Linked DNA regions of Homo sapiens: region 1 is linked to region 2. The links come from fine-mapping of genetic effects on gene expression. A gene starts in region 2. The other region holds a variant in brackets. All regions are shown on one strand. Distances are from middle to middle.

What was found. PIP is the estimated chance that this variant, and not a neighbour inherited with it, causes the effect.
Region 1: its variant is fine-mapped to the expression of CDHR3 in breast (GTEx, PIP 0.93).

What each region holds. Positions count from the first base shown.
Region 1 is chr7:105,859,073-105,875,550 of GRCh38, reverse strand. The region is part of intron 2 of ATXN7L1 (ataxin 7 like 1); the gene reads left to right. Among named protein-coding and RNA genes, the nearest start is that of ATXN7L1, 9.3 kb to the left of the region's middle. The variant G/T (reference allele first, on the strand shown) is at 9,721.
Region 2 is chr7:105,955,104-105,971,581 of GRCh38, reverse strand. It overlaps CDHR3 (cadherin related family member 3), which reads right to left and starts at 8,318. Exons shown (of 19, transcript NM_152750.5): 1 at 8,218-8,318. The coding sequence starts at 8,263. RefSeq lists a silencer at 7,985-8,279 and enhancers at 7,862-8,813, 8,814-9,765, 14,866-15,365, 15,366-15,867.

The DNA.
Region 1 (16,478 bases), 96 kb after region 2:
ATCTGCCATTCTCCTTGGGAGCATCATTGCCAAATGGTGGGGCGTTAAAATTTCTGAAATGAAGAGTGGAGTTCCCTTCACAAGCATCCCAGCCTTTCTCGTGGGTGAATGCACAACAGCTTAATGAACCCCACATGGTCAGTCATTCCAGCAGCTACTTCTCCACTCACCACTGAAAACCATTGTACATGGCAAACCTTTGCAGCAAGTTACATTTGGCCCACTTTGCATTTGGTCACAGATTGTTATGTGGCAAGCAGGGTTAGGAGCATCTGTATGTGCAGCCCCTCAGCAGTCATCATCTCTCTTTTCCCAGCATGGAAATACGGTACCTGAAATGGGACACACTGAGTAGATAGGTCATCCCAGACCAAGATATGCAAGAGAAGCCACAACCTGCTGCAATTGGGCATCAAACACATATGGTCGTCATAAATAAATCATATCCTGTTCTCATTTGCAAGCCTGCCGTATGTAACTCTGGCCTATGGGCTTCAAATGGAGCAACTCCGGGGGCCACTTGCTGCTAAGCAAATAGGTGGATTCATTTGAATTGTGATTCACTAACTGATGTCTTATAAACATAATTGGCTGAAATTGGGGGTGGGAAGATGGCACAAGGGGACAGAAGAGGTTGGTGGTATTGAAAGAGTTCAGACATAAGTAGGCCATAGGTGCATTGGTCATCCCAAATGAATGGAGAAAAGGCCATTAGATGCCAAAGAATGGTCCCCCTCATAAAAAGGGATGTCACCCTGGAAGGCAGCTGAAGCCTGCGTGGAAAGATGGAACTCATTTTATGAATCAACACTTCAGATGGTTGGTTTTCTGTGCCCAATCATTTCCTGACCATCCACTGAGAGGAAATTTTGTGCTTCAGAAAAAATAACATGAAGGTTAAAATGCGTACATATTCAAGGACAGTTCCCTAGCATAATGTTTCTGCTAATTAAGCACTTTGGGAACAAAACATTATTCTAAAGATGTTTGCTTCTAAATATCTTAGTGTGATCTTGACAGGTGTCTTCAGGATGCACGAGGGATTGATGTCAAGTGGACTTCTTACAAGTGGCAGCTTATTTGTGTTAAATGTTCATGTGTGTTGGCAGTGGGAAGCATCACTAGAGATTATTTTTCTTCACACACAAACTCTTGAGATCTCTAAGTGCTTGCAAGACCCAGTTATCAGGCTACTGGCAACGTGTCCATAAAAGATGATGAGGCTGTGGAAATCTTTAAATTAAAGTTGAGTAAAGGTCATGGTATAGCACAGGATTGTCACCTCTCAGGTCTGGGTGATGCGTTATGACTATCACACACAAAACTCACATCCTTTCCCCCCAGTCCCTGTTTCTATTTCAGAAGACTGTTGTTCTCAGATTCTCTTTGCCTCATGAGAAACAGATTTTTTTTTTTTTTTTTTTTTTGATACGGATTCTCACTCTGTCGCCAGGCTGGAGTACAGTGGTACGATCTTGGCTCACTGCAACCTCCGCCTCCCGGGTTCAAGCGATTCTCCTGCCTCAGCCTCCTGCATAGCTGGAACTACAGGCACGTGCCACCACACCCAGTTAATTTTTGTATTTTTAGTAGAGACGGGGTTTCACCATGTTGGCCAGGATGGTCTTGATCTCTTGACCTCGTGATCTGCCCACTTGGCCTCCCGAAGTGCTGGAATTACAGGCATGAGCCACCGTGCCTGGCTGAGAAACGGATTCTTTTAAGAAAAAATGAAAAGCTCTCCTTTCCTCAGAAGTCACAGGTGGTACATCCCGCTTATTAGGTCCTTTGTCCTATAAAGGTACGAAGATTTAGCTCCTAATTATACATATTTGCATTAAGGACACCCACTGTTCAGTGTAACTTGAAATTGCTAACTTCACCAAAATAGCCATATATGGGCTGAAATCTCTTTGTTCACAGGCCTGGTGGAACAGACTTGGGTGAGCAATTCCTGATGGTCTTTCTGGTATATATGCATGCAGTTTTCTTTATAGATAAAATATCTATATACTGAATACGTATTCCCCCATGGTGAGAAATTGAAGGGTTGAGCTGAGACAGGGTGTTTATTTGGTTACCTGGATCTCCAGTAATGCTTGCCATGGGCCCTCTTTTTGGAGTGATCAACAAAGTCCTGGGACGGATACATGTTTGTGGATGGGTCACTGCAGGACACAAAGTAGCCTGTGTGTGGCTGTGTACCTGTGCTTATGAATGTATGTAGATTGTCCATGACACTGTTGGCTTTAAGCAGGTCTTGAGAAGAAATTCGGCTTTAATGGGAATGAATGAACAAAATACAGTTTAGAAATTCCAACTGGGAATTGAAGGGAAGTGGTTCCGATTTTTGTTGTTGTTGTTGTTTTGTTTTGTTTTGTTTTGTTTTGTTTTTTTGAGACGGAGTCTTGCTCTGCCGCCCAGGCTGGAGTGCAGTGGCGCAATCTCAGCTCACTGCAAGCTCCGCCTCCCGGGTTCACACCCTTCTCCTGCCTCAACCTCCCAAGTAGCTGGGATTACAGGCGCCCGCCACCAAGCCCGGCTGATTTTTTGAATTTTTAGTAGAGATGGGGTTTCACCGTGTTAGCCAGGATGGTCTCGATCTCCTGACCTCGTGATCCACCCGCCTCGGCCTCCCAAAGTGCTGGGATTACAGGCATGAGCCACCGTGCCCGGCGGGTGGTTCCGATTTTGATGTTTTTTTTTTTTTGTGGTAAAATATACATAGCATAAAATTTATCATTTTAACCATTTTGAGTATACAATTCAGTGGCACTAAGTACTTTCATAATATTACACAACTATCATCACTTTCCATTTCCCAAATTTTCCATCATCCCAGTCAGAAACTCTGTACCCATTATGCAATCACTCCCCATTCCCCATTCCTCTCAGCCCTGGTAACCACTGTTCTACTTTCTGTCTCTATGAAGTTGCCTATTCTGATACCTCATATAAGTGGAGTCATACAATCTGTATCCTTTTGTATCTGGTTTATTTCACTTCGCATCTCTTCATAGCTCATCCATGTTGTAGCATGGATCAGTACTTCATTCCTTTTTAAGGCTGAATAATATTTCATTGTGTATATATACTACGTTTTGTTATCCACTTATCTGTTGGTGGACATTTGGGTTGTTTCCATATTTTGGCCATTTTGAGTAATGCCACTATGAACATTGGTGTCATATATTTTTAATAGACTAAACTCAGGAAGAGAAGTTAGGCTGGAAATGTGAAATAAGAATTATTTTGGTTTGGCCAGGCATGGTGGCTCACGCCTGTAATCCCAACACTTTGGGAGGCTGGGGTGGGTGGATCAGGAGGTCAGGAGATCGAGACCATCCTGGCTAACATGGTGAAACCCCATCTCTACTAAAAATACAAAAAATTAGCCGGGCGTGGTGGCACGCACCTGTAGTCCCAGCTACTTGGGAGGCTGAGGCAGGAGAATGGCGTGAACCCGGGAGGCGGAGCTTGCAGTGAGCCAAGATCGCACCACTGCACTCCAGCCTGGGCGAAAGAGCGAGACTCCAGCTCAAAAAAAAAAAAAAATTATTTTGGTTTCTACCTCTATCTGGCCACAACTTCAGAAGACACAGCAAGGACTTGCAGACTTTTTGAATAACTTGATTACTGTAATACAGTTCCCCATTCCTCACCCCTTTAAACTTTCTTTCAATTCTTTCCATTTCTTTCAGTTCTCCACCTATAAAGTATGAAATGTTAACTGGATGCTTTGAAATGTCTGTAATAAAGTTTTCATGTCATTGTTATTATTTCATCTAAAATTAGCTAAATTATAGCTAAGAGGAATTTGCCAATTTTTTTTTTTTTTTTGAGACAGAATCTCGCTCTTGTTGCCCAGGCTGGAGTGCAATGGCATGATCTTGGCTCACTGCAACCTCCACCTCGTGGGTTCAAGCGATTCTCCTTTCTCAGCCTCCCAAGTAGCTGGGAGTCCAGGCATGCGCCACCACGCCCGGCTAATTTTGTATATTTAGTAGAGATGGGTTTCACCATGTTAGCCAGGCTGGTCTCGAACTCCAGACCTCAGGTGATCTGCCTGCCTCAGCATCCCAAAGTGCTGGGATTACAGGCATGAGCCACTGCACCTGGCCCCAAATACTTTTGAATGTTGTCATCACCTGGGTTCAGAAGGCGTTGCTAGATCCATGGGTGGATATGCTTAGATGGGCTTATATCCAGGACAACCTGGGTACTGGAAGGAGCAGGATAGCACTTTGAGTCAGCTTCCTACATTTTGATCTATGCCCTTTGGAAGTCGTTTCACTTCTCTTGGCCTATTTGCCCATATTTAAAGAAAGGGGGGTGGAACTGAATGTCCTCTAAGGTCCCTTTGAGACCTCTGAACCCAAGCTTCTCTATTGAATGTACCTTCCTTTGAGATGCAGTTATAGCAGGCAAACTGTTTCTAAAGAAACTTAAAAAAAAAAAAAAAAAAACCCAAGCCCTCACATTAAAAATATCTTAAACTACTTCAAAAATAACTGGGTTTATTTTCTCAATTTATAACTTCTTGGTGGCAAAAATCACTGCATCTCATACACAAGCAATATTCTGCTGCAAATCATTTGTGAATGGTATTTGGCCTTCAGCATTCCGAGAAAAGTGGGGTTCTGAGTCCAAAACCCAATGTGTTCCCCTAGTGAGGAATGATTTGACCCCAGTCAGCTTGGATCAGTCAGGCATTCAGATTTCCTGAGAGGAGGACTCCCAGAAACCTTATTAGCCTAATCTGTGAAAGGTGTTTATGAGAGAAAATTCCAAGGACGGCCATTCTTCTGTGCTAACCTTTTCAAATAATTTCCTCCTCAGCTTTTTCAAGCTAATTAGGGAAAAGCTCTCAGTGATTTAGAAAGATGTTCCCCTTGCCTCACCTGAATTTTTTTTTAAAGAATACCAATTCATAGATAAGGAATAGGGTTCCTGTGCCTCATAAGTGTCCCTAACTATAAGACAGAAAAGAATAAGGTTGTTGTGATGATTAAATGAGATAATACAAAAGGGCTTAGCACATAGTAAGTGCTTAATGAATGTTGGCTTTTACTATTATTATCATTATTAATGAAGCTAGCTCTAGAAAACTTTATTCTAATTAGGATTTTAAACTAATCTGTGATGAAAAGAAAAGATACGTAGCAGAAACTTTATTTTTAGAGTAAACCATTTTGTTGTAATTTTATGACACTAATGATTTTTTAAAGAAACAATTTCTATGGATATCAAATTTTTTTTTTTTTTTTTTGAAATGGAGTCTCCCTCTGTCACCCAGGCTGGAGTGCAGTGGTGCGATCTCAGCTCACTGCGACCTCCACCTCCCAGGTTGAAGTGATTCTCCTGCCTCAGGCTCCCGAGTAGCTGGGACTACAGGTACCCACCACCACACCTGGCTAATTTTTTTGTATTTTTAGTAGAGGCTGGGTTTCACCGTGTTAACCAGTATGGTCTCGATCTCCTAACTTTGTGATCCGCCCGCCTCGGCCTCCCAAAGTGCTGGGATTACAGGCATGAGCCACCGCACCCGGCCAGATATCAATGTTTTTAATAGAGTGCAGTTAAGTGATCATTGATAAGTTTTATCAATAGCTGTCGAATAATACTTAGGCTGTATATGGCCTATGGCTAAGAAGAGTTTATACAAAGTTCTTTCTAGGGACTGGGAGATCTAAAAAACTTTTTTCAATGATCGATAAGTTGTTTTATTTTATCACTGAGAAAAAAAAAAGTCCTGAATAGATTCCTGTTTGGGTCTCTTGGAAGCCTACACTTGTCACTTTGAAAACTTGCCTGTGTTTTAACGTTCCCACATGTTTTGATGTGATGTAGATAAACTGGTGGAAAGTTTCCAATTTGAAAATTGTGCTGGGGCCAGTAAGATATTGCTGTGACTATAAGAGTTTGCTGTTCTTCTGAGATGCTGGTGGAATTGGGCTGGAATATAGGAGGGTGCAGAGAACATAGGAGCATGTTCAGCTCAGGCTTAGGAGTCTTGCAGTTGTGGCTGGATGGGAGCAAATTGGAGAAGGTGGCAACTGACCTGGTTAAGAATGAAGTTTTCTTAGAATCCAAGCCAGAGAAGCCAGCAGCAGGCCATGGAGATTTATGGGAAACTGCGAACAGCTTCCCTTTATCATTATAGACAACTCTGTTATCTATGTTAATAGGAGATGGGAAGACACAAAGTCCACAGATTACACAGATAAACCTCATTTTTACCATTAATTTCAACTTCATTCCCCATTAAGCCTACCTTCCTCCCCTTTTGCTAACAAGCAGTAACATTTGTTCACTTTGGCGTTACATTATCATCTCTCTTATCTGGCCCAGCTTTTGGGATGGAAGGATGGGAGAGATGGAGCGGCTTAAAGGTGGTAGGGAGGAAAGATGAGACGGAGAAGGGAAGGGCTTGGAGACCTATAAGCTCTACAGGTGCAGCCCACTGATGGAGCAGGGGCATGCCACAACCAACACAACACAGATGAGAAAGGACATCCTGATCATCTAGTTTGGAAAATACAAAGCTTCCAAAATGAGTATTTCTTTATACATACAATTATTTCCTTGTGCCTGGGTTCCCGTGTGGAAGAAATGTGGCTCTGTCTACTTCCACAACAGGAAGCTAGAATGGACACACGGAAACACTGTATATGATAATTTGCCTTCTAAGTTGCCCTGTACCAGGGTCTCATCCTGTATCATTCTATGAGAATAATGTTTTTACTGCTAGAAGATGTAGACCATTACACACACATACACATTCATTTTAAAACTACTTATTTTTTTTAATAATGTTCATGTTACAAAATTCAAAAGGCTATCCAAGTGGAAAGTAAGTCTCCCTCCCACCCCATCCCCAGTTGCTTGTGTATTCTTCCAAAGATATTCTGTGTGCATTCAAGTAGATACATATATAATTTTGTCTTCTTGTTCTCACGTGAATGATAGAAACCTATAGTATTAGCTGATATCTTGCCATTTCCATTTATCTTAGAGAGCTGTCCATGTCAGTTCATGAGAAGTCGCCATGTTCTCTTTTGGTGCCTGCATAGTAGGGTAACAATTTAAGCCTCTGGGTGTCTTGCCAAGTTTTTAATACGCTCAACTGTTTCTCAGCCTCCCTTATGTGTTTGACCTGGAGGGAGCTCTCCTGACGTGCCAGAACTGGGCTAGACACCAGGGACACAGCAGTGAAAAACCACAACCCCTGCCTGCCCTCAGGGTGCTTCCAGCCTGGTGGCGAAAGTACAGGTAGACCGCGATGAGTGCTCTGATAGGGAAACTCAGGTGCTGCTGGAGGTCATGGTGGGGGGGCCTCACTGAGGTAGGGGCTCAGTGCCGGCCTCCCAGAGGAAATTTTATGTAAGCTAAAACCTGGAGGATACAGGAAGTTACCCATGTGTAGAGCTGGGCAGGACAGAGTTAGAGGAAACGACAGGGATAAAGGCCCAAGTGCCAGAGAATATAGACTGTTCTGAACCTAAAAAGTCCTCTTGCTGGAGTAAAGATAGCAAAGCACACAGTAGTATAATATTTCTCACCAGTGGCACCACTGATGGTTTGAGCCAGATGCTTCTTTTTGGGGGCGCTGTCCTGTGTATGGCAGGATGCTGAGCCGCATCTTGCGCCTCCACTTGCTAGATGCCAGCAGTGTCTCCCTCCCCTCCCCCAAGTTTAGACAACCAAAAATATCTCCGTACATTGCCAAATGTCCCAGGGGGACAAATCGCTCTGATAGAGAATCACTGGCTGGTGAGGCTGGAGAGGTAAGAACACAAGAAAAATAGACTAAGATACAGAAATATTCTGCCAATATCTGTCCATGTGTTAGGCCTTCAGCCCATGTAAGTCAGCCTTGTCGATTACTCAGCAGATATACCTGTACTGTGACTATCCCCTGGCGCTGAGCTACATTTGGGAGGATCTAAAGAGAGAGAAGCCTCGGTCCCCCAGGGAACCCTCCTCCCAAAGTTCCCAAGATGACTCTTCCAAACCTTGGAGTCCAGTCTGCAGTCACTGGTGACAATAGTGAGTTGCAGGTTCTAATTCTGGGTGGCCCAACCCTCCTTCACTGTGGGTGGAGGAGACCCAAAGCATCAATTCTGGTAATGATGGCATTTATTATACAGTGGCCCCCGATGTCAAAAGTACCACATCGCATTGGTGAAGCAGTAAGGATTTCAGTTTATATTTAAAGTCAGGCTGAAAATACAACTGGCGTTCTCTGCAGTTTGATTACCCACGGGATATGTCTGAAATGGGGATGCACATGACGGAAAGCAAAGTGGCTGCTTTCATGATTTCCATGTTAAGCCTGGGAAGGTACAAAGGGCAGGGGAGGGTCTGATTCCTGAGGCCTTCTGACCTGTGTGCCAGGTGGTCTGCAGCATCAGTTAAGACTGTGAGGCCATGTTGATGCTTTCAGCCGGCGGTTCCCAGGGGCCTGCCGTCTCTGCTGCAGAATTGATTTAGAAAAGTTAGGCAGATTTGTTTCTGTATGGTTTTCCGGGTTGGTTGCATTTATATCCTTCAGGTTAACGTTTCGTTTATGACATTTTGTTTCATTCATGACATATTTCAGAAGTAGGCATAAGATGGTAGTACTCAATGCAGTGAGACCTTGTCCTGGTCAAATCCCTCTTCTCTAAGGACCCCACACACTGAGGTGGCCCACTATTCACATCTGGAGACAGTGGTCACTGAGTGATTGCAATAATCAAACATAGCCGTAATGGAGAGGGAGAGCTTTAGCCAGTGGGTTCTACTTTTTCAGAATATTGTAGGAATGGCAAGGACTGACTTCTGTGTGTGACTGTCTCCTAAATCTCCCGGTCCAGTGTTCTGCTGATTACGTGCTCCCAGCTGATGCCGTTTGGCTGGCATTCTCTTACTCTCTCCTGTGGTAGAGCTCAGACTGCCAAATGGACCTGGATTTGGACCCTGAGGCGCTTGAACTAATGATGAAACCTCAGGAAATCCCTTCTTGCAAGTGGGCTGAGGCTACAGCGGAGCATCCTTAATATTCAGGGGCTAGACCTGGCTGCCCTAGTCGTCTATAAGTGAAGCTGGAATTCTGCTGTGGGGAAAGCAATGTTTTTATGGAGACACTTTATCCTTGTACCTGTGGTTTCTCAACACAATTCTGCTTGCCAATTTTAAGGGATCAAGTGCTTACAGAAGAAATGGAAACCAAATAAATACTCTCCAGGGCAGGACGAAGTGGCACCAGGTCACCATAATGGGGAAGATAAAAGTGAGTCGATGACAGGCTCTTTGAACACAGAAGCACTTACCGGTGTACCTGATTCTGTGATGCTAATTGTAAATCTGTGAACATTAATGGTGTAAGGATACCCTTAACTGTAGGGGGAGTGTGAGTTACGTGACCTTACCTCAAGGCATTGACAGGCCACAGAGTCCTGGGGTGGGGTGGGGACACAGGACACCCAGTCCGATGATATTAACCACAGGTGAGTTCAGCATTCCAGGGGTATGGAAGATGCTGGAGACATGGTCCCAGTTTGGTTATATCAGACCAAGGTGATAGTCCAGTTCTCAAAAAGTATATGAGTCACAAAAGGACAAATACTCTGTGATTCCATGTATAATGAAGTTCCTAGAGTAGTCAGATTCATACAGACAGCGAGTAGAATGGTGGGTATTCAGGGGCTGGGGGAGGGGAAACGGAGAGTTAGTGTT[G/T]CCATGATACAGAGTTTCAGTTGGGGAAGATGCAAAAGTTCTGGAGATGGACTGTGGTGATGGTTGTACAACATTGTGAATATACTTAATGTCACAGAACTAACCGTACACATAAAAAATGGTGAAAATGGCCCGGGTGCAGTGGCTCACGCCTGTAATCCCAGCACTTTGGGAGGCCAAGGTGGGCAGATCACGAGGTCAGGAGATCGATACCATCCTGGCTAACACGGTGAAACCCCATCTCTACTCAAAATACAAAAAATTAGCTGGGTATGGTGGCACGTGCCTGTAGTCCCAGCTGCTCAGGAGGCTGAGGCAGGAGAATCACTTGAACCCGGGAGGCGGAGGTTGCAGTGAGCTGAGATCGCGCCACTGCACCCCAGCCTGGGCAACACAGCGAGACTCTGTCTCAAAAAAAAAAAAAAAGTTAAAATGGTAAATTTTATGTTATGTGTATTTTACCACACACAAAAAGGTTCATTGGCATTGCAGGCTTGGGAGTTTAATGGAGCATTATTTAAATCTTGACCATTTATTGGCTGTGTATTAAATTAAGCCTCAATTTCTACTTTTCTTTTCCAGAGTAGGAATAATAGTACCTATCAGAATTGTTGTGGAAATAAATGAGATGCTATCTGGTATAAAGTAGGTACTCAGTAATGGAAGCCTTTGTTGTGATGATCGTTGTTTTTACCGGGCACTTGGGTCTTCGCCTTTGTCTTAAGAGCTGCCACTTCCAGGGGACAGACTGCGTTCTTACTGCTCCGGGGGATGCCCGGGGCTCACCAGGCATCTTTTGTCAACTTGTATGTCTCCAGTTCTTTAAGGATGCCCCGAATAAAGACAAAGGGATTGGACTGGTGTCCCTGTACTGTTAGTTTCAAGAGTGAATCTGGGGCTGGGCACTGTGGCTCATGCCTGTAATCCCAGCACTTTGGGAGGCCCAGGCGGGTGGATCATGAGGTCAGGAGTTCGAGACCAGCCTGGCCAATGTGGTGAAACCCCATCTCTACTAAAAAAAATACAAAAATTAGCCAGGTATGGTGGCATGTGCTTGTAGTCCTAGCTGCTTGGGAGGCTGAGGCAGAAGAATTGCTTGAATTCGGGAGGCGGAGGTTGCAGTGAGCCGAGATTGCACCACTGCACTCCAGCCTGGGGGACAGAGTGACACTCCGTCTCAAAAAAAAGAAAAAAAAAAAACGAATGAATCTGTTTCAATGTTTTGCAAAGTGTGTTCATTCTGGAGACCCTGCTGTGTTGTCCTGTAGGGTACTTCGTGCCCCCGGCCCCAGGCTGGTCATACTAAAACGAAACAACCGGGAGTGAAGCACAGGAACCAGGAATGTCCTTTTTTTTTTTTTTTTTTTTTTTTTTGAGACAGGGCCTCTCTCTGCCACCCAGGCTGGAGTGCAGTGGCATGATCAAGCTCACTGCAGCGTCGATCTCCAGGGCTCAAGCGATCCTTCTACCTCAGACTCCTAGGTAGCTAGGACTACAGGCGTGTGCTGCCATGCCTGCCTAATTTTTTTTGACTTTTAGTAGAGACAAGGTCTTGCTATATTCCCCAGGCTGGTCTCAAACTCCTGAGCCCAGGTGATCCTCCCACCTCGGCCTCTCAAAGTTCTGGGATTACAGGTGTGAGCCACCACACCTGACCAGGAACGTGCATTTTAAACAGGCTCCTCAGGTGGCTCTGTTGTTTCCTGAACTTTGAGAACTACTGTTTATTGGTTGAGAGAAGTGGTTCTCAACCCTGCCTACCTTGAAAATTCCTTGGGAAGCTTTTTAAAAGCAAATATGCCAGGACCACCCACAGAGATTCTGATTCTATAGATCCAGGTTCAGGGGTTCTAGGGAGCTGCTTATGTATTTCCTTTTGGAGTTTTTTGTTTGTGTTTTAAATTTATTTTTCTGGTACCTTTTGGGCTAAACACAGCCCAACTTATGTGTTTTTTTGTTTGTTTTGTTTTGTTTTTAAGTAACAATCCTAGCTGTCTTTTATTGGGCATTAACTAGGTGCCAGGCACAGGGCTAAATGTGCATGTTCGCATTTAATCCTCATGACCACCCTGTGAGGCAAATCCTGTTATCAACCCTATTTCAGAGATTGGGAAGCTGAGGCTCAGAGAGGTCAAGTGATTTACCCAAGGTAACATAGCTGGGGAATAGTAGAGCTGCCCTGAACCCCAAGGCAGGCTGATTCCAGAGACTGTGCTCTAAGCACTGTGTCCTGATGTCTGTCATCCTAGGAGCAGGGTTAGGACTAAGGGGAAGCAAGCAGGCACCCAGGACACCTGTTTAAGGAGGGGCTCACGTGGGCTTCTGCAAGTGCGGAGTGAGTGCCCCTTAAGTGTTGCACCTGGGCACCTGACTTCACTCATCCTCTCACCATCCTTGGCCAAGAGAGCTTGTTCTTTAAGCAAAATGGCAAGGCTGAACTACCTTTCATTCCCCCTTGACTGTGTAAGCCAGTGGCCTCCTGATAGGGCCCTGGGTCTCCCCATCAGGGAAACGCTCTCTCATTCCAAGGCCCCAGCTTTGGGGCCTCTGTGGCCAGAGTCCTGGCCTCAGGGAAATCACAGGAGCTAATGCAAACTGTGTTCCTTTTTGGGAGAAGGTGTTAGCAAAGATGGTTGCCAAGCAACTCCAGGGGCGTCTATCTAGAGTGATGATTTCTCTCTTTTTCCTCCTTTTGAACATCTTCTAGGCCGCTGTTCAGTTTCCCTCATGGCATTGGGATTGTTAGTAATTTCATGAAGGGTGTGCTCTCTAGGATGATGGAGCGGAGATCACTCTTCAATACTGCCACATTAGAGGTGTCCTTTTGATGGTGATATGCCTGCTAAGTGGGTGTGAAAGTCCTTTACCTTCTTCAGCCACAGAGATGCCCTAGTTGTCACTGTCTCTGAGAGGGCAGTGACAAAGAGGATCCTTTGGATTGGAGTGGCTGGGAAAGGCACAGAATGCATCTCCCACATGAGGACAGGGCGATGTGGCAACATTTACTTCCCGTGACTTTGGATTTCACCCATTCTCCATTAACTGGGACATTTAAGCATTTTATAGTGATTGCCCTGCTGGTCCCAGAGGAGCTGGTGTCACCCCCCTGTCTCTCTCTCAGTGGTTTCACAGACCAGAAGAGTCCTTGACAGTCCTTTCCTCCTCAGTGCTGTCCCCTCTCCTAATTAATCACCTCCTCTGTGTGGGGTTTCAGGTGACCTTCGATGGGCCCCAGACCCCATTGTCTACCAGCTGGTGGTTTGATTCTTCTGATAAGGACCTGGAGCTTGTGGGTTCAAGCACCTTTTACACTTAATGGGACAGAATCCCAGCCAGACTGTCAAGAAGAGGGTGATCCACTGGAAAAGAGGAACTGGTCACATTTTTGGGTGGGAAGGGGCAGTAGCTCGGTCGCCCAGGCTGGAGTGCAGTAGTACAATCATAGTTCACTGCAGCCTTGACCTCCCGGGCTCAAGTGATCCTCCCACCTCAGCCTCCCTCCCAAGTAGCTGGGCCACAGGTGCACGCCCCCATGCCTGGCTAATTTTTTCTATTATTTTTAGAGACGGGGTCTCCCTATGTTGCCTAGGCTGGTCTCGAACTCCTGGGCTCAAGCGATTCTCCCACTGCAGCCTCCCACAGTTCTGGGATTACAGGAGTCAGCCACCACGCCCACCAGAACTGGTTACATTTGCTTAAGGTTGAATCCATTTGGCCAACCCATGTACAACAGCCCTGTTAGCCAAGTCCCCAGACTCCAGGCTTCTGTTCCCTTGAGTTACTCCTTCCATCATTGTGCCCTTCCTCATCATCTTTTGCAGAAGCGGGGCAGGACCCAGAGAGAATTAGGGACTCAGATGAGTCCTGCCACTTTCAGTGGCTGAGACAAAAGACTTAATGGCAGAACACAAACCCGGTACACAAGCCAGGTTTAAACAGAGTAGGGGCTTATTTGCTTTCCAAATGGAGTTACTGGGCATTTCTTTAAACAGTAGACAACCCTACAGCTTTTTGAAAATCATATTTGCTTCACAGAAGTTTTCATGGCACCCGCTTTTGTGCCCTTTCTGCCAGCTCCTCCCTTGGAGCGTGAGGCTTTGCCCTCGGTTTGCTCTGCATTTGCTCCGGACCCTGGCTCCTGTTCACACCCCAGGTGGTCCCTGTGTGTGGCGATTCTGACATGCCTGCAGCTTTCCTGACCTCTCCTCCACAGAGTGCTCATCCCACCCCCGGGTGCCGCACCAGACAGCCCCTCACAGATGTCATTGTGCATCTCAGACTCCACTAGACCCAAGAGCAAGCCGAGCCTGTGCGTTTTCCCCATCACTATCTTTAGAAAGACCCCCTCCTCCTCTCCTCCCTCCCTCCCATCTTAGCAATTCCCTGCACCTCTCCATCTCTCTCCACTCCCCCACCCCCATCCCAGCTAGCCTGCCTCATAGCCTACCTAGATTTTTATAATAGCTATTTAATTGGTCTTCCTGTCTGTATCTTCCCTGCACACCACTTCAAAAATTAATCTTCTGAAAATTCACATGTATCAGTTTGTTCCTCAAGTGAAAACCTCTCAGCACTCCCTCATCGACCAGTTAACACAGCATTCAAAGTCCTCAGTCCCTTCCTATCCGGACAGGTGGCCTGCCCTTTGCAGCAGCACTTTGGACAAGTGGAGTCCTTTCCCTGCCCCCTTCTCTGCCTCTGCCTGCCCTCTGCATCTAGTGTCTTCCCCTTCTCCCCTTCCCCTTGCCCCTCATCCTCCTTCCCCAGGGCCAGCCATACTTTCTAAGGAAGCCACCCTGCCGCTCGGGCCACCCCGCCTGGACCTTCTCCGCACCCTGTGCATGCTAGCCATGCCCAGCGTGTACTTTGCCCCCAAATCTCGCACCTCCTTGCACTGCTGCAGACTCTTCCCATGGTCCACATGTGTCTTGTCATCATAGCTGCATTAGAATCTTCTGGAGGCAAGGTGGAGGAAAAGCGATCATATCATCCCCTTTTCTTTCCTAAGTTATCTTTCAACCAGCAGTGTTATAGTTCGACTAAGCATCTTGTTTTTGAAATACCTGTATTGTCTTTTTCTTTTTTTAAGAAAATTGTGGTAAAATACTATACCATCTTAACCATTTTCAAGTGTAAAGTTCAGTAGTGTCAAGGACATTCACATGATTGTGTAGCCAATCTTCATAACTCTTTTCACCTTACAAAATTGAAACTTCATACCCATGAAACAACAGTTCCCATTTGTATTTTCATTTTTAAAAAGTCAGTCTGGAGATGGCCTATGAGGTTTTTTGATTCACCATCTGATATTTTGAAGTTGTCAAGATTCTAAGAACTGGAAGGACTCCTAAAGTTTCTGTTCAAGTGGATAGCTGGAGCTACAATGCAAAACACAGCTCACCTTAGGACATTAGCTCCAGCATCCTAGGTCAGCAGAGAAAATTCCATGAAAAAATGCTACCGCTGGGGTGCAGAGTCACAGACATCTTTGAGCACCTAAAGTTTTTCATTTAATATTCAGTAGTAACCCCCACTCTGCACCATTCTCTTTTTTGCCCTTGCAGCTCAGTGTTAAAATTTTTCACATGTATAAAAAGGTTGAAATAACGGTACCATGATCACCTATAGAATTAAACATTAGTTCACATTTTGTCTTGTTTTCATATATATATATATATATATGTATATATATATATATATATTTACATATAAAGATCTATCTGTATATATGTCTTATAAAGAAATATACAGGCCAGGCATCGTGACTCATGCCTGTAATCCCAGCCTTTGGAGGCCAAGGCGGGTGGATTACCCGGAGTCAGGAGTTCGAGACCAGCCTGGCCAACATGGTGAAACCCCATCTCTACTAAAAATACAAAAATTAGCCAGGCATGGTCACACACACCTGTAACCCCAGCTACTTGGGAGGCCGAGGTGGGAGAAATGCTTGAGCCCAGGAGGCAGAGGTTGGAGTGAGCTGAGATCGTGCCACTGCACTCTAGCCTGGCCAACAGAGCGAGACTCTGTCTCAAAAAAAAAAAAAAAAAAGAAAGAAAGAAAAAGAAATATACAGTCATGCATTCCTTAATGATGGGGATATGTTCTGAGAGTTATGTCATTAGGTGATTTTGTAGGTGTGCAATAGGCTATGCCATCTAGGTTTGTGTAAGTTCACTCTATGATATTCCCATTGGTATAACCTATTGCTCCTAGGCTACAAACCTGTACAGCATGTTGCTGTACTGAATACTGTAGGTAATTGTTGTAACACAATGGTAAGCATTTGTGTCTCTAAACAGATTGAAACATAGAAAAGGTACAGTAAAAAATATGGTATTATATACTCTTATGAGACCACTGAGTATGGGCCTGTTGTTGACCAAAGTGTCATTATGCGACTGTGTGTGTGTATATGTATATGTATGTGTATATATATATATTTATATTTCTGTAGCATTTGAAAATAAGTTATAGACATCACGACACTTCACCTTTAAATATTTATCATTTTTCCACATCTTGATTGTGCTACCTTGAGCTGTTCACTTAAATTCTCAGAGCCTCATCATACATAAATATGTATGTATGTTTTTGCTGAACTATTTGGTAAGTCACAGACAGCATGACACCCCTAAATACTTCAGCATGCATCTCCTAAAATTAGAGGCATTCTCTGGCCTAATCATAATACCAGTATCACACTTAGAAAACTAATGGTAATTCCATACTCATATCTGATACCCAGTTCTCGTTCAAAA
Region 2 (16,478 bases):
CTGAGAGACTAATTCCATGAAAGATCCAGCATTCCAATCCTAGGCATCTGACTCCAAGGACAGCTCCATGATGTCTCCTTAAATCAGAGTGTTTTTTATCGTCCTCCTTGAATGGTCATATTTTGAATGGCAGTGAGAGATATTTTTGAAGAAGTGGATATAGCCAGTGACTCTCAAGCAATTTTTATTGGGAACCGCCTGTCCCATGTATGGTGAAAGCCAGACTGTCCTTGGATATGCCCTTTCTGCCGATATTCTTGCTAGAAATGATCTACATTTTTTCAGGTGGCCTCTCTTCCCAGGGCAAGGCCGTGTGTGCCAGGGTCATGCAAATGAATCCTTAAAACTTTGAGGCAGACCTAGGCAGACCTAGCAGTCCTAGGCAGTCCTTTGAGGCAGACCTAGGCAGTCCTAGGGATACTGATTTTTTTTTTTTTTTTTGAAATGGAGTCTCGCTCTGTCTCCCAGGCTGGAATGCAGTGGCGCGATCTTGGCTCACTGCAAGCTCTGCCTCCCGGGTTCACGCCATTCTCCTGCCTCAGCCTCCTGAGCAGCTGGGACCACAGGCACCTGCCACCATGCCTGGCTATTTTTTTGTATTTTTAGTAGAGACGGAGTTTCACCGTGTTAGCCAGGATGGTCTTGATCTCCTGACCTTGTGATCCACCTGCCTCGGCCTCCCAAAGTGCTGGGGATACTGATTTTTTTAAAAAGATAGCCAAGCTGGGTTCTCCTGACCTTAATTCAAAATCCGGTTTCTCCAGCTCTATTGCTATTTGTAAAAGAAGTAGTAGTAGTAATAATAGCAATAGCAAGGATAATAAGTGACTAGGGTCCATACCCTAAAAATAGAGTAATGAATAAGATACAATATTCACAAAATGTTAAACCCATCTGTTATACAGGTAAGCTTAAGTGATGTATCCAAAGGCACCCATCTGGTCAATGGCAGAGGGAAGATTAGAGGCCAGGTGCCAGCTCTCCCTAAAACACCGCATACTTTCCTTCCATGGCTGGTCTTCCAGGCTTTCTTTGGTGGTCTGAGTGCTAGAGAGCAAGAAGGAGGCTCTAATGGAATTTGACTTACACATGCATCTTAATTAAGAATCAAATTAGAATTGCTTGAAGCACGTACTTTGGAAAAGAAAGAGCATGCAAAAGATTTATTGTCAGCCATGGCGCCCACTGAAACATCTTGCTTGTGGCTAAGATCTGGATGCAGGATGTGCTCACTTGTCTCCCTTGAATCACTGCCTCTCCAGAAATGGACCAATGGGGCTTCCCTGGGAGCCTATGTTGGGATAATTAAGCCTTCCACAGTCTCAGAGAGGAGGAAGTTGGCCACCCTGGACCTTTGACACTGAAAGTGGAGATGCGGGTCAAGAATGTGGGGTGATGCCATCTTCTTCTTGGGGTGTAGCTGCTCTAACTTAGAGCTCTGCTTTCAATACACAGAGCAGGACTCCCTGAGACCATCACTCAATAGCTACCTCTTCATTCTCTCTAGTACCTAATCAAACAGCAGTGAACAAAATCAGTTCTGTGAAAAGAACGAGAGATTTGGAATCAGACCCCTGGCTTCAAGTCTTAGCTTTGCCACTGCTTGACTGTGTGACCTTAGGCTGGTCCCTTGACTTCTCTGGGGGTTCCTGTCAACTCTGTCTCTCAGGGCTATGGTGCTACATTAACAGTAGCCACTAAACAGGGTTCCTTTGCTAAAGAAGACTCATGGGACCCAAGTGACAATGCTTATAAATCTACAGTTTTATTACAGAAAACGGATACAGCATAGCAACAACATGAAAGTAAGGATATGCACTACAGCTGAAGGCTGCCTCAGCAGGAGATCCACAGAGGCCAGGTGCAGGCTAGGCTCTTACTGTTGTCTTTTCTCTATGGGACGGAAGAATGCACTGTCTTGGATCAGGAACAGCCAATGTATGCACAAATATCTTGGAATTATGGAGTCTTTACTGGGATTTTTTTCTATTTTGCTGTAGGCATATTCTTGTTCTATAACTGGCCTCAACGGCAGAACCCACAGAAGGTCCTCGTTGAGACCAGGTGCAAATAATCAATCCCACTGTTATCAATAAACAACGCTTACAAGCTGCTACAAACCATTCAGAAACTCCTAGGACCCACGGTTACAACGAAACACTTTTTTTTTTTTTTTTTTTTTTTGAGACGGAGTCTCGCTGTCGCCCAGGCTGGAGTGCAGTGGCGCAATCTCGGCTCACTGCAGGCTCCGCCCCCTGGGGTTCACGCCATTCTCCTGCCTCAGCCTCCCGAGTAGCTGGGACTACAGGCGCCCGCCACCTCGCCCGGCTAATTTTTTTTTGTATTTTTAGTAGAGACGGGGTTTCACCGTGTTAGCCAGGATGGTCTCGATCTCCTGACCTCGTGATCCGCCCGCCTCGGCCTCCCAAAGTGCTGGGATTACAGGCGTGAGCCACCACGCCCGGCCCACTTTTTTTATTTTTATTTTTATTTTGAGACGGAGTCTCGCTCTGTCCCCCGGGCTGGAGTGCAGTGGCGCGATCTCTGCTCACTGCAAGCTCCGCCTCCCGGGTACATGCCATTCTCCTGCCTCAGCCTCCCTAGTAGCTGGGACTACAGGTGCCCGCCACCACGCCTGGCTAACTTTTTGTATTTTTAGTAGAGACTGGGTTTCACCGTGTTAGCCAGGATGATCTCAATTTCCTGACCTCATGATCTGCCCGTCTCAGCCTCCCAAAGTGCTGGGATTACAGGCGTGAGCCACCGCACCTAGCCAAAGCAACACTATTAATCAGCATGCTTCATGCCTTGACTAGGGGTCAGTGTGGTTCACGAACTTCAGCAGAAAAATTCAGGCTAATATCAGGCCTATGGAAACTTATTCTCACAGCACAGATGCCACATAAGAAAATGCATATGCTCGGCCAGGCACAGTGGCTCAACCTGTAATCCCAGCACTCTGGGAGGCCGAACCAGGTGGATCACCTGAGGTCCGGAGTTTGAGACTAGCCTGGCCGACATGGTGAAACCCCACCTCTATTAAAAATACAAAAATTAGCAGTGTGTGGTGGCAGCTGCCTGTAATCCCAGCTACTTGGGAGGCTGAGGCAGGAGAATCACTTGAACTGGGAGGTGGAGGTTGTAGTGAGCCCAGATCACGCCACTGCACTCCAGCCTGGGCAACAAAGCAAGACTCCATCTCAAAAAAATAAAAAATAAAAAAAAGAAAGAAAGAAAGAAAAGAAAATGCATATGCTCAGTAAACTATAAAGCATTGTCAAATGTTGTTTCAACATATGCAACTTTTTCCTATTTCTTTAATTTCCACAATATATACCTCTTCCTGAATGAGATGTTCACCCACCCCCTTTTTTGGGAGGAACAAGGAACAATCCAGGCCAAGCAAGATTAACAGAAAAGAGCCCTTTATAGGACACAGAAGGAAAGGTGATTCAACTAGTGATTCTGTACATTATATTAGGTCGGTGTAAAAGTAATTGTGGTTTTTCCCTAGAAGAAAACCTAGGCAATACCATTCAGGACATAGGCATGGGCAAGGACTTCATGTCTAAAACACCAAAAGCAATGGCAACATAAGGCAAAATTGTCAAATCGGTTCTAATTAAACTAAAGAGCTTCTGCACAGCAAAAGAAACTACCATCAGAGTCAACAGGCAACCTACAGAATAGGAGAAAAATTTTGCAATCTACCCATCTGACAAAGGGCTAATATCCAGAATCTACAAAGAACTAAAACAAATTTACAAGAAAAAATCAAACAACTCCATCAAAAAGTGGGTGAAGGATATGAACAGACACTTCTCAAAAGAAGACATTTATGCAGCCAACAGACACATGAAAAAATGCTCATTATCACTGGCCATCAGAGAAATGCAAATCAAAACCACAATGAGATACCATCTTACACCAGTTAGAATGGTGATCATTAAAAAGTCAGGAAACAACAGGTGCTGGAGAGGATGCAGAGAAATAGGAACGCTTTTACGCTGTTGGTGGGACTGTAAACTAGTTCAACCATTGTGGAAGTCAGTGTGGCGATTCCTCAAGGATCTAGAACTAGAAATACCATTGGACCCAGCCATCCCATTACTGGGTTATACCCAAAGGATTATAAATCATGCTGCTATAAAGACACATACACATGTATGTTTATTGTGGCACTATTCACAATAGCAAAGACTTGGAACCAACCCAAATGTCCATCAATGATAGACTGGATTAAGAAAATGTGGCACATATACACCATGGAATACTATGCAGCCATAAAAAAGGATGAGTTCATGTCCTTTGCAGGGACATGGATGAAGCTGGAAACCATCATTCTTAGCAAACTATCGCAAGGACAAAAAAACCAAACACTGCACGTTCTCACTCATAAGTGGGAAGTGAACAATGAGAACACTTGGACACAGGAAGGGGAACATCACACACTGGGGCCTGTCATGGGGTGAGGGGAAGGAGGAGGGATAGCATTAGGAGATATACCTAATGTAAATGATGAGTTAATGAGTGCAGCACACCAACATGGCACATGTATACATATGTAACAAACCTGAACATTGTGCACCTGTACCCTAGGACTTAAAGTATAATAATAAAAAAAAAAAAGTAATTGTGGTTTTTACCATTACTTTCAATGGCAAAAACCAAGATTAATTTTGCACCAGCTAGGTCATAACTGGCAAGAAACAGACGTGTTTATCTTAGAGCATCACTATGGGGTGGGCCTGAGAAAGGCTTGTTTCTTTCAAATCTCTTCCAACTACATGGAGGCGAAAGTGGATGGATTCCAGTGACTGCCTGACTGCTTGCACTGGGGGTGAGGTTGCCATGGGCAAGGAAGAGCTGAGAGAAGGGACTGTCTTTTGTTCTTCTGAGGTGACTCTGAACAGGAAAGTGACATGACGGAAAAAGTAGAAACCTCTTGCAACACTCTTTGGGCCTGATACATAGGGTTAATTGGCTGACAGAAAGACTTTCTAGAAATGGATTGCATCTTCCAGCCTTTTCATATGATGAGAGCATTAAGAAGCATTTACATTTTAATTACCAAGGAGAATAAGAAACTCAGTCTTGGGCCTTTGTTTGATTTGCCAACACTGGCTAGCAGAGAACCACGCACAGATGATGGGCTGAAGAAAGCTGTGATTGCCTCTTGCCCAGAGCTTGCGGACAAACTCAGTTGGATGGGTTTGGTACCTTTTCATGTCCATGTGAATCTTCTGGCTCCCAAGGATCCCTTCTTTCATTAAATACCCTGGCATTTTTCATTTCCAGGAGGGTAATACAAAAGCTGGTTCCTTGGATGCTTCTTCAAAACATAGACAGCTTCCATGTGCAGTGGATTTAAAAATACCAAGGGTCCTTCTCTATGTCCTTCATCTTCTGGGACTCACATGTGATCCTTTGGGACTGATGGAGCCAGATGACTGCTTTGTCTCAACTCTTTCCACTGGGGCAGTTGAAAGTTTTGTCTAGTTTATATTCTTGTAGAGCCTCCCTTTGTAAGCTGTTGGTGGAATAGGCACTATAGCTTCACAAAGGGAAACTCATCTTCATAGGAGGTGGAAAGGACAGAAGTGAATTTAAATGTCAATATCAAGCAGGAAGAAGATCTAAAGCTCTACATTTGGGGTGTATCAGTAAATGTGGGGAAAAAACCATACCAGACTCAAAAAGTATAAAAATAAAAACAGCAAATATGTATTGGATATCCTCTATATATGTGGCACACAGGGACAATGAGCAATAAGATATATGAAATCTGTTATTGCAGGGCTGACATTCTAGTTGAGGAGGCAGAAATGGCCATATAACAGATGAATTACAGTATGATAGCTCATGCTACTTTTGGCTGAGCACTGAATCTGCATTAGGTGCTGGACTGAACTCTTTGCAGGCAGTCCATGTGCAGGCAAGAGGAGCTCCAGGGTGCAACAGCAGGAGCACTCCCCAGGAGCTAGGTCAATCCAGGAAGACTCCATGGGGGGGGGTGGGGCTTGAGTTGGGCCTTGAAGGAAGCATAGGAGTTAGAACACATGAAAGGAAAGAGGATACTCTATGTTACTTTATTTATTTACTTATTTTGAGATGGAGTCTCACTCTGTCGCCCAGGCTGGAGTGCAATGGCGCAATCTCAGCTCACTGCAACCTCCGCCTCCTGGGTTCAAGCGATTCTCCTGCCTCAGCCTCCTGAGTAGCTAGGATTATAGGCACCCGTCTTCATGCTCTGCTAATTTTTTACTGTATGTTACTTTATTTGAGATTATTATAGTGATGCCTGCTTCCAACAGCCTGAAGGGGTGCTGATGTGGCTGCCCCGCTAGAAGCCTCTGTAGCCCAGGTGTTGGAGTGTGAGGGTAATGACCAGGTTCTCAGACTCACAAAAGAAACAGTTTGTGTCACAGTAGCCCTTCCAAAAACAAGATTTGACCTAAGGGATTCTATTGTGTGTTTTAAATAAGAAATCTCAAGTATTTCTTGCAAACCTTTGTGATCTATCCCTTTCACACTTCTGATAAAATTCCAAATGATAGTGTTCAGTATAAGAAATTGGGTTCTTCCTAACCTCACTCTTTCCCCAGTGACAATAAAAGTCACCTCGACTCAAATGATTGTGGCCCTAAAAGCCCATATTTCTGGGGGAAATCTGAAATGTTTACTTCAAGTGACAGTCTGAACTGCTCATGGCCCACTTCACATTCACAGGTCATCCTGCCCTCTGCTGAGTTGAAAAGCCCAAGATAGAAGAGGGCTCAATATTAGGAAACCCAGTTATTTATTTATCTTATTAGCAGATCGAAGAGGAAAATTAAATGGTCATTTTCATAGATCTTGAAAAAGCGTTTGATTTAAAAATCCATTTTTATTTAGAAATAAGTACTTGAATATTCTTACATTTAGTTTTATTATATTTTTATTTAGAAATAAATACTGTAATATTCTTATATTAATAAGAATAAAAGCCACCTCCTTAACATATAAAACATTTCTCTCTCACACCAAAAGTTAACATCATGCTTAATGGGAAACAAGACAGGAATTTACACTCTTGTCATTATTTAATAATGGTCAGAATGTCCAGGCCTGGCAGTTAGATAAGAAAAAAATAGGAGCTATAGACATAGGAGAAGAAGAATATAAATGTTCATTTTTTCAAACGTGGAAAATTCATGAGAATCACCTGAAAAACCATGCCAAATAATAAGATAATTTGTTAACAGATTTCCATACATCATACAATAATCAGTTGAAAGATGTAGGGAAGAAGAGATTCCATTTACAAATGTAAAAAAAGAAAAAGTAAAAGAACTAGAAATAACCATAATAAGAATGTACCAAATCTATATGAAGGAAACCTCAAAATACTCCTAAGAAAAACAAATGAAGACTCAAACAAGTATCTAGAACCCTGTTCTTGGATTAGGAAGACTCAAGATCATAAATAATACTCACTAACATTTACTAAGCATTTACTATGTACTCAGACACTCTTCTAAGTATTTTACTACATAACTTGTCAAAGATGTAAATTATCCCTAAATTAATTTGCAAATTTAACATAAATTCAATATATTATGCATATACTACCTATTCAGAAATAAAATTTAATTTTAAAATCTCAATTTCAATAATCCAAGCTGACATTAAAAAGATCATCTAAGATTCTTGATGCCCTTGAATGAGGAAGAGAGAGTAAAATGATCACTAGCTTGAGTCTTTGACCCTTCTATCAGAAGGTGTTTTCTTTGCTCAAGAGGAAGACACCCCCTCAGTAACTCACTTTCCTCAAAGGATCACTTGTCAACCTCAAGTTGCCCTACGAGCCTCCAGAAAAGGGCCAGAATCTCCACAAAGACTCACTTGACATACTCACAAAGCTCTGCTATGAACACTATTTTCCCAACCTTAAATCTCAGGAGGACTACCAAATGCAGGCCAGTTAACCCAAGAGGGAAAGTGAAGTCTACACCAACATAGATTAGATTAGGCTCTTTAAGCATCTCTCTTTTCCAGGGCTCCTACCTGGTCCCCCAGGGCTCCCTGGAGCGGCATCACCTCATTCATTACTGCAGCTAAGCCCTCAATTGAACAAGCCTCCCAGGGGCAATTTCCTTTCTGGGGGACATTGTCATTCAATGGTATTATGCAGACCAAGTAGGCAAGCAAGGTTCCAAAGCAAAATTGAGTTCCTACCTGACATGGCACCCAGGAGAGCCAGGAGAATGATTGCTTCCTGCATACTTGATGGTCACAACTGTGCGTGCTTCCAGCACATTAGCCACAGCCTGAATCCCGTCTCACACCCAAAGTTTATTCCAGAAGCCACTCAGCTTCCCCTCCTGGTTTTGTTGCCATGCAAGAAATCAAACAGAGGCTTTGGCGGTAGCCAAGGGAGACTCCAAACACCACAGGACTGTTTGTTCTTTGATTACCTGCTTCTGTGACTGCATAGCACCCAAGAGACCAACCAGCCAGTCCTGGTCAGCTCAGAGTTTACCTTAAAAGTCCACACTCACCAAGTGTCTCAACCAAGAGCTCCAAAAGAGAAGTCAAAAGAGAAAACCGAGACACGGAGACCACACTAAGAGCTGGACGTGCGTAGTCCACCCATGATGGTCTCGGTCGCCCTGTAGCCAGGCTTGTGGTCATTTCCAGAAACAGGGGTGGGAAGTGGGAGTTTTTCTGCTGTCCTGAATCAATGAGTAGGATTCAGACTTGGGAATTAACTGGCACTCGTTCTAAAGACAAGATCTGAGAGCTGGGAGCAGACCCCTCCTCGAGGCTGACTTGAGGTGGAAGACTGCCCTCTGACTCCACCCCCCACCACCGCCCCTCCAGCCCTCGAAGAAGGCTGTGAAGGAAGGTTACTGGAGTGGTGAGGCTTCTGCCCACTGGGGAGTGATGCAGGTCTTGCCCTTCACGATGCCTTTCTGTTCCACACAGCCCTGTGCCAGGGCACAAGATGTGGCATGTGAACAAACGCGGGCTGGGGTCTAGTCTCCACTGAGAAGGAGCAACAGCAGAGCAGAGAGAGAACGGCCGAGCAGTGGCCTGTCCCCTTGACATGGTGCAGTAAGAGAAGTAGTGGGCACAGTGGAAGGCAGCTGGGCTTGGACCACCTCTCCCATTCCTCTGCCAGCTAGGGGAGGAGAGGCCAGCAGCCCAAGGCTGGGGGCAGGAATGCAGTGAAGAAGGTGGGGAGTTGAGTCAGAGCCTCCCAGTCTGGACGAGACCCCACAGGCGCTCTGAAAACTACACATGCCCCACAGGTGAACCAGCTTTTAGCACCTGCTACACGGAGGTCACCAACGAGGGATAGAGGGAGACAGTGTTATGGAACCAAACTGGGTCCACTCACCCTGTGCAGTAAAACCGGATATCCACACCGAGGTTTTTGCAGCAATAGAAAGGAAGGCATTTATTTGCAAGGGTGCCAAGCAAGAAGGGCTCAGAGAGTGAGGGGTTTGACCCAGGCTGCGCCACCTGCCAGTGTCCCCTGTGTCCCCTGCGTCCCAAACCTAGGGTGGCAAGGCTGCCCTTCCCTTCCACCACATCCAAACATTTGACAAGCCCTTTCCAGCCTCCAGGGCCTGCTGCCGGGCCCCTTCCCATGCTTGTTGCTACTGCCCTGGCTTAAGGTCCTTGCCTCTGGCCTGGGCTCTGGCCCGCAGCACATCCTACAGAAACTTAGGTTAATTTCCCCAAAGTACAATTTTGGTCATTTACTTTCCTGCTCAAAATAACAAGAACCTTTCCCTTAAGAAAAGTTGACTTTTCTTGTGTAAAGCATGAAGGAAAGGTAGTAAGATTAGGAAAGCTAGTCGATAGGTCTCTGTTCGAAGCACATAGATAGTAACAACAACAACAAAACAAAAGGGAGTGTTGCTGTGTCACCTTTGGCAATTTACCTAACCTTTCAGAATCTCAGTTCCACTCACTTCTGTAAATCAGGGAAAATAATACCTGCTACACAGTATCATCGCAAGCGATACACAAGAGAAAGAAGTGAAAGAAACTGGCCCATACTATGTGTTTTAAAAATACTTTTTTTTTTTTTTTTTTTTTTTTTGGAGACAGGATCTCACTGTCACTCTGTCTCCCAGGCTAGAGTGTAGCAGCGCGATCATAGCTCATTACAGCCTCAATCTCCTGGACTCAAGCAATCCGCCCACCTCAGCCTCTGGAGCAGCTGGGACCACAGGCGTGCACCACCACACCAGGCTAATTAAAAAAATTTTTTTTTTAGAGAGGACGTCTCCCTATGTTGCCCAAACTGGTCTCAAACTTCTGGGCTCAAGCGATTCTCCCACCTCCGCCTCCCGAAGTGTTGATATTACAGGCATGTGCCACACTATTTTTTCCTAATAGGACCCTGGCAAGGGCTGAAACATAGTAGGTACTCAATATATATTGGCCAAATAAAAAGAAAAATAAACAACAGTTGCCAAGCTACCAATTCTCACCTCTCAGTTTTTCCTGTCATGTGAGATACTGTAAATAATCCATTTCATTATGCATAATTCAAGCTGAAGCGATGGCTCAGATTAAGTTATGGAAAACGTCAGAATGATTAAACTTTTGTATTAAAGAAACTCACATCTGTTTAGTTTTCAGCCTGACTGCACAGCATTTTTCATGTTACCCTGTTTTTACCAGGAGATCGTGCCTCCCCTTCCTTTCCCTCCCTGGTTCTAGGGAGCAAAAGGGTCATCTTTTGGAATTCATTGTGGGTGTTTTCTCCTGTAATTACAGCTTCTGTTTCCAGCCCCGAGGTTGTTTCTGCCATTGCCGCGGGCTGCTGCCCATGTGTCAATTCCCATCTCCCTCCGAAAGCACCTAGTCCTAGCACCAGACACCCAACTGGGCCTGAATCGCACCAAGGCTGAATGGGACCTTGCGGTCCTTGGCTCTCCTGTCCCTGACTGCCAGCATGCTGAGCTGTCCTGGATCCACCAAGGTCTCAGCCAGATGGGATGAATGGGTTCCTCAGGCAGGGTCGGAATCTCTAGGGCAGGCACCCCTCCAGCTTCACATGAGACCCAGGAGCCTTCTCCTACATGCTGTCTGGCTCAGCAGTGATTCAGGCCCTTAAAGTATTTCAGGGGACTTCCCTGGGAACTAGCTACTGTAAGTGTCTAATTTGCTAGCAAAGGAGTTGTGTTCCAAACATTTTTTGACTTGGAACTTGGAACTCAATTACCCTTACATAATCTATAACATATAGTCATGCACCGCATAATGACAACATTTCCATCAACCATGGACTTCGTACACAATGGTGGTCCCATAGATGATAATGGAGCTGAAACATTACTATCAACTAGTGACGTTGTAGCTGTTGTAACATCATAGTGCAACATGTTACTCATGTGTCTGGGGAGATACTGGTGGAACAAACCTACTGCACTGATAGTTATGCAAAAGTCTAGCGCATACGGTTATGTACAGTACATAATACTTATAATGATAATAAATGTATGCTGTCATTTTAGAGTATACTCCTACTTATTTAAAAAAATAAAGCTGGACAGGCACCGTGGCTCACGCCTGTAATCCCAGCACTTTGGGAGGCTGAGGCGGGTGGATCACAAGATCAGGAGTTCAAGACCCACCTGGCCAACATGGTGAAACCCCGTCTCTACTAAAAATATAAGTTAGCTGGGCATGGTGGTGAGCACCTGTAGTCCCAGCTACTTGGGAGGCTGAGGCAGGAGAATCTCTTGAACTAGGGAGGCAGAGGTTGTAGTGAGCCGAGATCGCGCCATTGCACTCTAGCCTTGGTGACAGAGTGAGACTCCATCTCAAAAAAAAAAAAAAAAAAAAAAAAAAAAGCTAATTGTAGAACAGCCTCTGGCAGGCCCTTAGGAGGTATCCAGAGGAAGGCATTGTTATCATAGAAGATGGCAGCTCCATGTGTGTTATTGCCCCTGAAGACCTTCCAGTGGGACAAGATGTGGAGGTGGAAGACATGACATTGATGATCCTGACCCTGTGCAGGTCTAGACTAATGTGTGTGTTTGTGTCTTCATTTTTAACAAAAAAGGTTTGCAAGTTAAAAAAAAATAGAAAAATAGTATAGATTAAGGCTATAAAGAAAGAAAATATTTTTGTACAGCTGTGCAATGTATTTTAAGCTGTTATTACAACAGAGTCAAAAGTTTTAAAAATATAAAAGTTTGTAAAAATGTTACAGTAAGATAAGGTTAATTTATTATTGAAGAAAGAAAAATTGAAAAATAAATGGAGTGGACTAAGTTTACAAACTCTACAGTAGTGTACAGTAATGTCCTAGGCCTTACATTCACTCACCACTCACTCACTCACCTACAGCAACTTCCAGTCCTGCAAGCTCCATTCATGTTAAGTGTCCTATAGAGGTGTACCATTTTAAAAAATCATTTATGCAGTTTTTTGTTGTTGTTTTTTTTTTTTGACGGAGTCTCGCACTGTCACCTGGACTGGAGTGCAATGGCACGATCTCAGCTCACTGCAACCTCCGCCTCCTGGGTTCAAGCTATTCTCCTGCCTCAGCCTCCCAAGTAGCTGGGATTACAGGCACCCGCCACCATGTCCAGCTAGTTTTTTGTATTTTTAGTAGAGAGGGGATTTCACTATGTTGGCCAGGCTGGTCTCAAACTCCTGACCTCGTGATCCACCCACCTCGGCCTCCCAAAGTGCTGGGATTACAGACGTGAGCCATCGTGCCCGGCCTTATGCAGTATTTTTTAATGTACTTTTTCTATGTTTACATATACAAATACATACCATCGAGTTACAATTGCCTACAGTATTCAGTACAGTAACATGCTGTACAGGTTTGTAGCCCAGGAGCAATAAACTATACCATACAGCCCAGGTGTGTAATAGGCTATACCATCGAGGTTTGTGTAAGTGCACTCTATGATGTTCGCACAATGATGAAATTGCCTAGTATTGCATTTCTCAGAATGTATCCCCATCATTAACTAACTGTACTTGTCTGTATTTTAAATATTACAGCCTTAAGATGAGACACAGAAGTACTGTGCAATGGCTGGGCTCTGTTAGCAGCTCCACGAGCATTGGTGGGCTGGCCTGCAAGCCTCATCACCTTTATATCTGCGGGGCAGTTCTGTTCATGGTCCGTTTGTTCAGGACTGGAACTATGGGCTTCCAGGAATCCAAAACCTAGAACAGAACACCCAGGTTCCATCATTCAAGCACCTCCCCCATCTCAGGCCTCCCTCAGGAAAGGCACTCAGGGTAGACCCATGCTCACAGCAATGGTGCCATGCAGATGCACAAAGCTGCTTGCAAGAATAGAAACACATCCCTCCCCGTGTCTTCTTTGTGGGCCACTGTCCTAGCACACGCACTGCTTTAGCACCACATCTCATGGATCTTTTATACATCTGTCTCCATGCAGCCTTGGCAAGTTTTCCAGGACAGAGAAGCTCTTATGCTTCTTTGCACTCCAATTGCTTCACATTTAACACTGTGCCAGATGCATAGTAAGTGCTCAAAAAACATGGAATTACTGATCTTACTTTATACTTCCTTGCCTCGTGCCATGCTCTCCTCTCACACCCACCCCAAACATCGACCCAGTGAGAGCCCCCCCCGCCCCCGCCAGCTCTTGCAGGGATAGAAATAAAGAAGTGCCACAGCCCTTCTCACTTCTAGAACCCCGGAGCTGCATCCCCTGACTGGCCTTGAGGACCATGGGAGGGGCTCCTCTGAAGCCAAGGCTCTCAGGACCCACTGGTAGGGTCCTTTTCCTGGCTTCACAGGTGGAAGAGTGACTGAGAAGACGTCCTTGGGGCTCAGCCCCACCTGACTCCAGGGCACCTGCTGTGACTGTGGGCTAGGCTGCCTGCTCTCTGGGCTCACGTCCCCAGATAATTCTTTTTTTTTTCTTTAAACAGTTTGTGATATAATTCACATACCTTACAATGCACCCAGTTAAAGTGTACAATTCAGTGATTTTTAGTATATTCATAGAGTTGTGCAACCATCACCATAATCAATTTTATAACATTTTCATCCCCCCCAAAGAAAAACCTCTTCAATCCTTAGCAGTTACTCTCAATTTTCCTCTAACTCTCGCCCCCAACCCTAGCAACCACTAATCTACTTTCTATCTCTATAGATTTCCTTATTCTGGGCATTTCATATGAATAGAATCATACAATATGTGGCCTTTTTAAAATTTTTTTTTTTTTTTTGAGATGGAGTCTCACTCCATCACCCAGGCTGGAGTGCAGTGGCGTGATCTCAGCTCATTGCAACCTCTGCCTCCCAGGTTCAAGTGATTTTCCTGCCTCAGCCTACCAAATAGGTGGGATTACAGGCGCGTGCGACCATGCCAGGCTAATTTTTGTATTATCAGTAGAGGCAGGGTTTTGCCATGTTGGCCAGGCTGGTCTCGAACTCCTGACCTCAGGTGATCCGCCTGCCTTGGCCTCCCAAAGTGCTGGGATTAGAGGCAGGAGCCAGTGCACCCAGCAATATGTGGCCTTTTGTACTGGCTTCTTTTACTTGCATAATGTTCTTTGGGTTCGTGTATTTTGTTGTATGGCTCAATACTTCATTCCTTTTTATTGCTGAATAATATTGGGTTGGTGCAAAAGTCATTGCGGTTTTTGCCATTACTTTTAATTACTTTTGCACCAACCCAATATTATTCCGTTGTATGGATAGACCACAATTTAATTTTCTTATTAATCAGTTGATGGACATGTGGGTTATTTCAACATTTTGGCTATTAAAATAATGCTGCTATGAACATTTGTGTACAAGTTTTTGCACGACATAGGTTTTTATTTCTCTTAGGGAAATACCTAGAAGTGTAATTACCAGGTCATATGGTGATTCTACCAGGTCATTCTTGTGGGCAATTGTCTAACTGCTTTGAAGCCAGCTCCTTCTCCAGCATCCTTCATTGGCTTCCTGGAGCCCCCTACCCCAAGCTATGGGTCTCCTCCTACTTACCCTCTCTGCCACTTTGTTCAAACATCTTCATGCCAGCTGATTCCTTCTTCCCCCTTCTCCCTTTAGGTGGCATTTATTTATTCACTCAAGAAATATTGAATACCTACTGTGTGTCAAGCCCTGTTGTGCATGCTAAGGTTATCGCAGAGAACTGTTTTGTTCTCTGAAGAAAATGCCTGGCCACAAGCAACAGATTCTGTAGAAGCACCCCTCCTTCCATCCATCCAGTCAGCCAGCTGTGGCTCTGGTTGAAGCTCACCGCATGGCAGCACTGAGAGGTGACAGCATGCTGGCATCCCTCGCTCGCTCGCTCTCGGCGCCTCCTCTGCCTGGACGCCCACTCTGGCGGCACTTGAGGAGCGCTTCAGCCTGCCGCTGCACTGTGGGAGCCCCTTCCTGGGCTGGCTGAGGCCAGAGCCGGCTCCCTCAGCTTGAGGGGAAGTGTGGAGGGAGAGACGCCGGCGGGAACCGGGACGGCGCGTGGCGCTTGCGGGCCAGCGCTAGTTCCAGGTGGGTGTGGGCTCGGCGGGCCCCGCACTCGGAGCAGTCCGCCGGCTCCGGGCAGTGAGCGGCTTAGCACCTGGGCCAGCGGCTGCTGTGCTCGACTTCTCGCCGGGCCTTAGCTGCCTCCCTGCGGGGCAGGGCTCAGGACCTGCAGCCTGCCATGCCTGAGCCTACCCCGCCGCCGTGGGCTCCTGCGCAGCCTGAGCCTCCCCGACCAGCGCCACCCCCTGCTCCACGGCGCCCAGTCCCATCGACCACCCAACGGCTGAAGCGTGCGGGCGCACAGCGCGGGACTGGCAGGCAGCTCCACCTGCGGCCGGGTGCTGGATCCACTGGGTGAAGCCAGCTGGACTCCTGAGTCTGGTGGGGACTTGGAGAATCTTTATGTCTAGCTAGGGGATTGTAAATACACCAGTCAGCACCCTGTGTCTAGCTCAGGGTTTGTGAATACACCAATCGACACTGTATCTAGTTACTCTGGTGGGGACTTGGAGAACCTTTGTGTGGACACTCTGTATCTAGCTAATCTAGTGGGGACGTGGAGAACTTTTGTGTGTAGCTCAGGGATTGTAAATGCACCAATCAGCACCCTGTCAAAACGGACCAATCAGCTCTCTGTAAAATGGACCAATCAGCTCTCTGTAAAATAGACCAATCAGCAGGATGTGGGGGGGTGGGCGGGGACAGATAAGAGAATAAAAGCAGGCTGCTGGAGCCAGCAGTGGTAACTCGCTTGGGTCGCCTTCCACGTTGTGGATGGTTTGTTCTTTTGCTTTTTGCAATTAGTCTTGCTTCTGCTCACTTTTTTGGTCCTTGCTACCTTTATGAGCTGTAACACTCACCGTGAAGGTCTGCAGCTTCGCTCCTGAGCCAGCGAGACCACGAACCCACCAGAAGAAAGAAACTCCGAACACATCTGAACATCTGGAGGAACAAACTGTGGGCACACCGCCTTTAAGAACTGTAACACTCACCACGAG